Homo sapiens: one gene and its partner. The protein of the gene in region 2 interacts with the protein of the main gene of each other region in a biochemical or structural test. Each region holds a gene or a part of one and is shown on either strand. Other genes may lie near its edges. The genes, in order: CDC7 and DTD1.

Region 1 (3,821 bases), on a different chromosome or scaffold from region 2:
TGCCTGCCCACTCAGCCTATTCTTGGAAAATATGATTCAGAAAAACAAGATACTTAGGAAGGCTCCAGCCTTGTTAGTTTGAAAAAGCAAGTGATTCTGACTAAGAAACTATGGGTGTTTAAGAACCACTGCAAAAATTACTGCCCTTGCTTATGCACTAGTGCTATAGTCTAATCTACAAGAAAAACTTAGTGGTGGTTGTGAAGAAAGCCTCATCTTAATAGAGGCTTGCCAAAATATGTTTCTACAGTAAAGTCAGTCCACGATTTGTAACTATCTTGTACTTATTGTAAGAAAATTTTATTTGAAGATAATAGGATGAAATAATACAAGGGAAAAAAAGTGACCATGAGTGGAAAGCAAGATTGATATCTTAGAAATGGCATTCTTACATAATAATATAACAAGTATGTTTATTCTCAACTGAGAAAACTTTCATCTACTATTGAATAACTTCGTGAGAGGTTTATGAACATGAAGTTTATCAGCCAATACCAACATATTTTATTGAAGAGCTTGAATCTCCCCCATTGTAATCCAAGTTATAATCAGGGCCAACAATGGAAATACAACATCTGACCCAAAAATACTCTAGATCAAGTGCCATGATAGCAAGCAAGAGCTTTTAGAGATTTATCATTGTAATACTTCTCATATTAAAAAAAAAATAGGGCCAGCCGTGGTGACTCACACCTGTAATCCCAGCACTTTGAGAGGCTTAGGTGGGCAGATCATGAGGTCAGGAGACCGAGACCATCCTGGCCAACGTGGTGAAACCCCATCTCTATTAAAAACACAAAAATTAGTTGGGCATGGTAGCATGCACTTGTAGTCCCAGCTACTCGGGAGGCTGAGGCAGGAGAACCAGCTGAACCTGGGAGATGGAGGTTGCAGTGAGCCAAGATTGCACCACTGCACTCCAGCCTGACGACAGAGCAAGACTCTGTCTCAAAAAAACAAATAATAAAAATAATGCCATAGGACTTGTCTCAGTTGTATTAGTATGACATCTGTAGTTATTTTAGTCTTGATCTTACTATAACTTTGGACTGAGTATAAAAGCCTCAAAATTTCAACAAACACAACTGTGTTCCCCTTTGTAACCTAAAGAAATGACTTGGCTGAGATTAGCAGTGAGAGCACCTTTACTTCTCTTATCTGTCCTCAACCCTTAAACCTGGCTCCATTGTGGGTTGTCATTAAGTACTCAGTGAATTGTGTTGAATAAATTAAAAAGAAAAGTCTTGAGCTGAAACAAATTCCTGACACATAGTAGTCTGTAATAAAATATGTTGACTGATAGTGTTACTTGAAGTTATTTTTCCTGAATATTGTAAATGAACCCTCTTTTTGGTCATATAAAAAAAAGCATATTGTATAACTTGGGGACATGCTATAACATATACTATTAGTTATTTTATGACTTCAGAACAAGCTAATAAAGGAATAAAACTATATGAATATTCCCCCCTGGCTATAATTTTCTAGAGAGAATAGGAATGATAGAATCAGTTTAAAAGTAAAAAAGCATTGGCATATTGTACTCTCAAAGAATTTGGTCTTCAGTAATTGTTTGTTTCCTCCCTTTCCCTCCCCCATTTTTTTCCCTGGCTTAGTACACCAGTCCAGTAGTTAGTTCAGAATATGTAAAGGTAACTTTTTATCATCCACAGTCAGATTAATGACTTTGTTGACAATCTACATTCTCAGAAAGGCATCTAAATGTTGTGGTACTTGTTGTTTCGTACATTTAGTATATTTCTGTTTAATAAGGAAATGTAAGGCAAAAATAATACATGATTGCCATTTGTGTGATTAACTTTTTTTTGCACATCTGATAATAAACCCATCAGGAAGTTATTTCAAATACATTTATATTTTTAAAAACAGATCTAGTTTGTTTATTTGTTCATTCAGAAACATTTATTGGGGCTTTATGTGTGCCAAGTACTATTGCGAGTCTCTGCTTTCACAGAGCTTAAATTCTAGTGAGGGAGAGAACATAAATAAATACTATGAGAAATGAGTGGTACTGAGATAAAAGGAAAAGGGGAGGGAAGAGGCTTATTTAGGATAGGTTGGTCAAGAACAGCATCTCTAAGGATGTATGTGTCATTTGAACAGTTGTTGAAAAGAATAATGCCTTTTTGTCTAGTCCAACAGACATTAACTGACTACCTAATCTGTACCAGGCATAGGCTGGGTTTGGGGGGTTCAAAGATAAATAAGACAGTTCCTGCCTTCAAAGAGCTCAGTCTACTAGGTGGGACAGACATATATAGGATAGCAAAAGTAATAGTAGAACTCTCAAGATACAGTAGAAACTGAAATTGATCAGTTCTCTCTGAGGGTGTCAAGCCTCAGAGGTGATTCTTGATCTGAGTGGTGATGTCAGTGAGAGTGTCCTGGGCACACAAGGGGTGCAGGGCATCCTAGGCAAAGACAGGAGTCATGTAGTCAAAGACATAGAAGCATGGAAAGGAAGTAGAGTGGGGGCGTGGGAGCTGCAGCTAGTTAAAGATTATAGAAGGGTAAGATGAAGCTTGAGAAATTGGCAGAGTCAAGTGAGTGCCTGGCATAGCTTAGTAAGTCACTGCTTTGTACTTACTATCTCCCACTTTATCTCCCACTATGCAATTCAAATACAACTTAAATATAGCATGTGGTGCTCTATCTCATACTGTGTGTGTGTGTGTGTGTGTGTGTGTGTGTCCATGTCTATAAAGCATATGTTTGAACTTTCATGTTTCTCATGAGAGAGGCTTCTGATATATTCAAATAATAAAATGTTTTTTTCTGTTTTTGTTTTTTCTTCTTTTGCTTTTAGGGAAATCAATATTATGTAGCAAAGAAGTTCCAGCACAAGACTTGAGAAAACTCTGTGAGAGACTCAGGGGTATGGATTCTAGCACTCCCAAGTTAACAAGTGATATACAAGGGCATGCTTCTCATCAACCAGCTATTTCAGAGAAGACTGACCATAAAGCTTCTTGCCTCGTTCAAACACCTCCAGGACAATACTCAGGGAATTCATTTAAAAAGGGGGATAGTAATAGCTGTGAGCATTGTTTTGATGAGTATAATACCAATTTAGAAGGCTGGAATGAGGTACCTGATGAAGCTTATGACCTGCTTGATAAACTTCTAGATCTAAATCCAGCTTCAAGAATAACAGCAGAAGAAGCTTTGTTGCATCCATTTTTTAAAGATATGAGCTTGTGATAATGGATCTTCATTTAATGTTTACTGTTATGAGGTAGAATAAAAAAGAATACTTTGTAATAGCCACAAGTTCTTGTTTAGAGACCAGAGCAGGATTAATAATTTATTTTAACATTTTAGTGTTTGGTGGCACATTCTAAAATATAGATTAAGAATACTTAAAATGCCTGGGATAGTTCTTGGGACTAACAACATGATCTTCTTTGAGTTAAACCTACCTAAGTAGATTTTAGGTGGGTTCCTATTAGGTCAGATTTTTAGCTTCCCTAATTACCTTTCACTGACATATACAGAAAAAGGAGCAGTTTTAGTTTTAATTAATTAAAATTAACAGATGTGATGAGGATTAAATGAATCAAAAGACTTAATTTGTAGATTCTTTTAGAGTTATGAGCTAGGTATAGTTTGGGGAAACTCAACCTGGTGCTGGTGCTCTTAACAATTTTGTAAATAAAGAAGATAATTTCCTTTTCTAGAGGTACATATTAGGCCTTTTATGAACACTAAAACAATGAGGAAATGTTGGTCATGGGGCAAAGTATCACTTAAAATTGAATTCATCCATTTTTAAAAAACACTTCATGAAAGCATTCTGGTGT
Region 2 (3,821 bases):
CTCACAGTTGAGAAGAAATCTCTCACAATACTTTGCTGATGAAGGAAGCTATGTACTGATTTACATTCTGACACGAGCATCTTACTGTTGCTGGTCCAGGTGTCACGTGCATTTTGTGGAGTGCACTGATTAGTAACTCTGCTCTAGATCTGGTTTTGTTCTTATAAAGTTGATGGTTACAGTTGAAGCCTGTATATATTCATTCCACTAAGATCCCATTATCCTCTTTCCCCTCCATGTTAACTAGTGTATTGAAGTTGGCGTGTATTCTTCCAGGCCATACTGTATTTGCATGAGCTCACTAGCTATGTAGAGTATTATTTTGTGTTAGTGGAATCCTACTGTATATAGCCTTCTGAAGCTAAATTTGTTTTGTATAACATGATTTTCAAGATTTATCTATTTTTTTTAATTAAAAAAAATTTTTTTTGAGACAGTCTTCCTCTGTCACCCAGGCTGGAGTGCAGTGACATGATCTCAACTTACTGTAACCTCTGCTTGCTGGGCTCAAGCGATCCTCCCGTCTCAGCCTCCCCAGTAGCTGGGACTACAGGCATGTGCCACCACGCCTGGCTAACCTTTGTATTTTTTTTTTTTTTTTTTTTTTGTAGAGACAGGGTCTCTCTATGTTGCCCAGGCTGGTCTCAAACTCCTGAGCCCAAGCAGTCGCCCACCTTGGTCTCCTAAAGTGCCGCTATTGCAGGCATGAGCCACCACCTCTGACCAAGACTTGGCTATTTTGATATATGTAGATCTACTGTACAATATTGCTTTAGGGGACCAGACCACATTACACGTATCTGTCCTCCTAATGTTGATGGACATTTGGGTTGTTTCTAGGTTTTTGCAAATACAAATGACACTACAGTCCATGTTCTCAGAAGCCCCCACTGTGCACACAAGTGGAAATTTATCCAGGGGAGTTTTCGGAGGAGAGTTGCTGAGTCAAAGGTGAAGTGATGTCTTCATTCACAAAATCTAATTAGTATATTAACCAAACTTAGCTGTATTCTACAGCTTTTCAGGTAAATGGGGAGTAGGAAAGAATAAGCCAGGGGTCCTCAACCCCCAGGCCAGGGACCGGTACTAATCCCTGTGGCCTGTTAGGAACTAGTCTGCACAGCAGGAGGTGAGCAGCCTATGAACGAGCATTATCACCTGAGCTCCGCCTCCTGTCAGATCAGCAGTGGCCTTAGATTCTCATAGGAGCGGGAACCCCATTGTGAACTGTGCATGCGGGGGATCTAGGTTGCAGGCTTCTTATGAGAATCTCACCAATGTCTGATGCTCTGAGATGGAACAGTTTCATCCTGAAACCATCCCCTCTTCTGTCCCCCATCTCACAGAAAAATTGTCTTCTATAAAACCGGTCCCTGGTGCCAAAAATGTTGGGGACCACTACTATAAGTCAATTATTAATAAATTTGATTTCCTGGACCCAATTGAGAGCTACTGGTTGGTTGTTCATCTCTCGAAGGGTTAACTCAAAGTCTGTTCATAGTGGAAGAAATGATCTGGCAGATTGGGGGAAGTGAATCCTCTTTGTGTCTTGGATGTGGGGCAGGGACCAGCAGGGAGAAGCCAGCCCTTCAATAAGTTTCCTTCTTTTTATGTAAACTAGAAAAAGTTCACAGACTTAGTCTGGGAGGGAGATAAAACTGGGTATTGCTGTCTCTTGTGTTTTTTGGTCTAAGAAAATTCCGTGGTTCAAAACTTGGCCGGTCTTCTCTGCTGGGTTTCTCAGCAGGCTTTCCTGTAGTGGCTGGGCTGCTGCTCAGTGTTAGATGATGGAAGCTTCTTTCAGCCATCTAGCTGATGCTTTCTTTGAAGAACTATTCAGGGAAGAAGTGGGCCCAGGTTCCATTCGAGTGAGACATCAGGGGCATGTCCCCTGCTGGCCTGGTGGGAGCCTAAGAAGGCTCTAGTGGCCAGTGTCCTGAGTGTTGCCACCACGCAGCCTGCAAGCAAGTCAGCCTTCAGTCTCAAATCAACTGGTAACTGAGACGGTGTTCAGTGTGCTTAATGCACTTTGTTTCACAGCCTTCTCTGTAATCTTCAGCAAAGAGTAATGTGTTTTGAACATTCTTTAGAAAACACGTGGTGTGGCATGGTGGCTCACACCTGTAATCACAACACTTTGGGAGGCCGAGGTGGGTGGGTTGCTTGAGCCCAGGAGTTCAAGAACAGCTTGGGCAACATGGTGAAACTCTGTTTCTACAGAAAAATTGGCATGCACCTGTAGTCACAGATACTTGAGAGGTTGAGGTGGGAGGATCACTTGAACCCAGGAGGTTGAGGCTGCAGTGAACTGTGACCGCACCACTGTACTTCAGCCTGGGCAACAGAGTGAGACCCTGTCTCAAAAAAAAAAAAAAAAAAAAGAAAAGAAAAGAAAAAAGAAAACAACAAGTAGAAGGTAACTTGATGAGAAAAAAAACTATCAAAGAAAAAAGTAAGAGATGAAAAGCCTTCATATATGGAGCTCTTCTAAGGCTGTTGAAGAAGGCTGTGGCATGACCGCTCCCTCATACTGTGTGCCAAGTTGAATTATGGTTGGGGAAAAGTCTGAGAGTGATTACTCCTATGACTAATGATTTGTTTCAGTGATTCAGGTGCCTGTTGGAAAAACATTCTGTGTATAATTTGGTATATCTGAACCACTGTGCTCTGCCAGGTTATCAGAAAAAAACTTTTCAATGGTTCCCACCTGGGAAGTCACTGGTGTGTGGGATACACAGGCATGTGTTTGTGTTTGTAAAATATTCTTTTTTATTTTTATTTAATCAGCTGTCAAAGCTCGAAAAACAGCAGCAGAGGAAAGAAAAGACCAGAGCTAAGGGACCTTCTGAATCAAGCAAGGAAAGAAACACTCCCCGAAAAGAAGACCGCAGTGCCAGCAGCGGGGCTGAGGGCGACGTGTCCTCTGAACGGGAGCCGTAGCTCAGGAGGCAGAATTCAGGTAGGAGTTTCCCTGCTTGGCTTCATCTTCCCACATTTTGGGGAAGCAGCAATGAATAGGAGGGAATAGCTGCTGAGGCTGAATTCATTCATTTCACAGCGTTCATCCATAGCTTCCTTAAATCTGCTGCCTTCCAGGATGGAGACAAAAGTTAGTGTGTTAGTCCGTTTTCACGCTGCTGATAAAGACATACCTGAGACTGAGTAATTTATAAAGATAAAGAAGTTTAATGGACTCGCAGTTCCACGTGGCTGGGGAGGCCTCACAATCATGGTTGAAGGCAAAAGGCATTTCTTACATGGCGGCAGGCAAGAGAGTATAAGGGTCAAGCACTCCAGCCTGGTGACAGAGCAAGACTCCATCTCAAAAAAAAAAAACAAAAAACAAGTGAAAGGGGTTTCCCCTTATAAAACCATCAGCTCTTGTGAGACTTGTTCACTACCAAGAGAACAGTATGGGGGAAACTGCCCCCATGATTCAGTTACCTCCCACCAGGCCCCTCATCTTGAATTGTAGTTCCCATAATTTCCACGTGTGTGTTCCTACGTGGGAATTATGGGAGCTACAATTCAAGATGAGATTTGGGTGGGGACACAGCCAAACCATATCAGTTAGCAAATAAGATTGTATTTTATTCATTGAGATGCAGGAGGGTGGCATACCACAGGCCTGGGGTGCCCACCTGGGGGTGGAACCTGTTTGTGCCACCTTCTCTGGCTGCCTGTGCCAGTCCACAGCTGCTGCTGTGATTGCCTGTGCAGAACACTCACTCACCGATACAGAATCCAGATGCAGATGCAGAGTCCACTTGCGCTCCTGCATCTCCCTTCCTGCTCTTAGCCACTCTAGCAAAGGGCACTGC

Evidence for each region.
Region 1: of the proteins of DTD1 (region 2) and CDC7, one has a biochemical effect on the other in vitro, tested with the Homo sapiens proteins (one study listed by BioGRID).

Annotation. Positions count from the first base shown.
Region 1 is NC_000001.11:91,521,214-91,525,034, forward strand, and holds part of CDC7 (cell division cycle 7-related protein kinase), read left to right. Parts: intron 1-2,827; coding exon 2,828-3,222; 3' UTR 3,223-3,821. UniProt on the Homo sapiens protein: Kinase involved in initiation of DNA replication. Phosphorylates critical substrates that regulate the G1/S phase transition and initiation of DNA replication, such as MCM proteins and CLASPIN.
Region 2 is NC_000020.11:18,741,313-18,745,133, forward strand, and holds part of DTD1 (D-aminoacyl-tRNA deacylase 1), read left to right. Parts: intron 1-2,787; coding exon 2,788-2,940; 3' UTR 2,941-2,959; intron 2,960-3,821. UniProt on the Homo sapiens protein: Possible ATPase involved in DNA replication, may facilitate loading of CDC45 onto pre-replication complexes. An aminoacyl-tRNA editing enzyme that deacylates mischarged D-aminoacyl-tRNAs.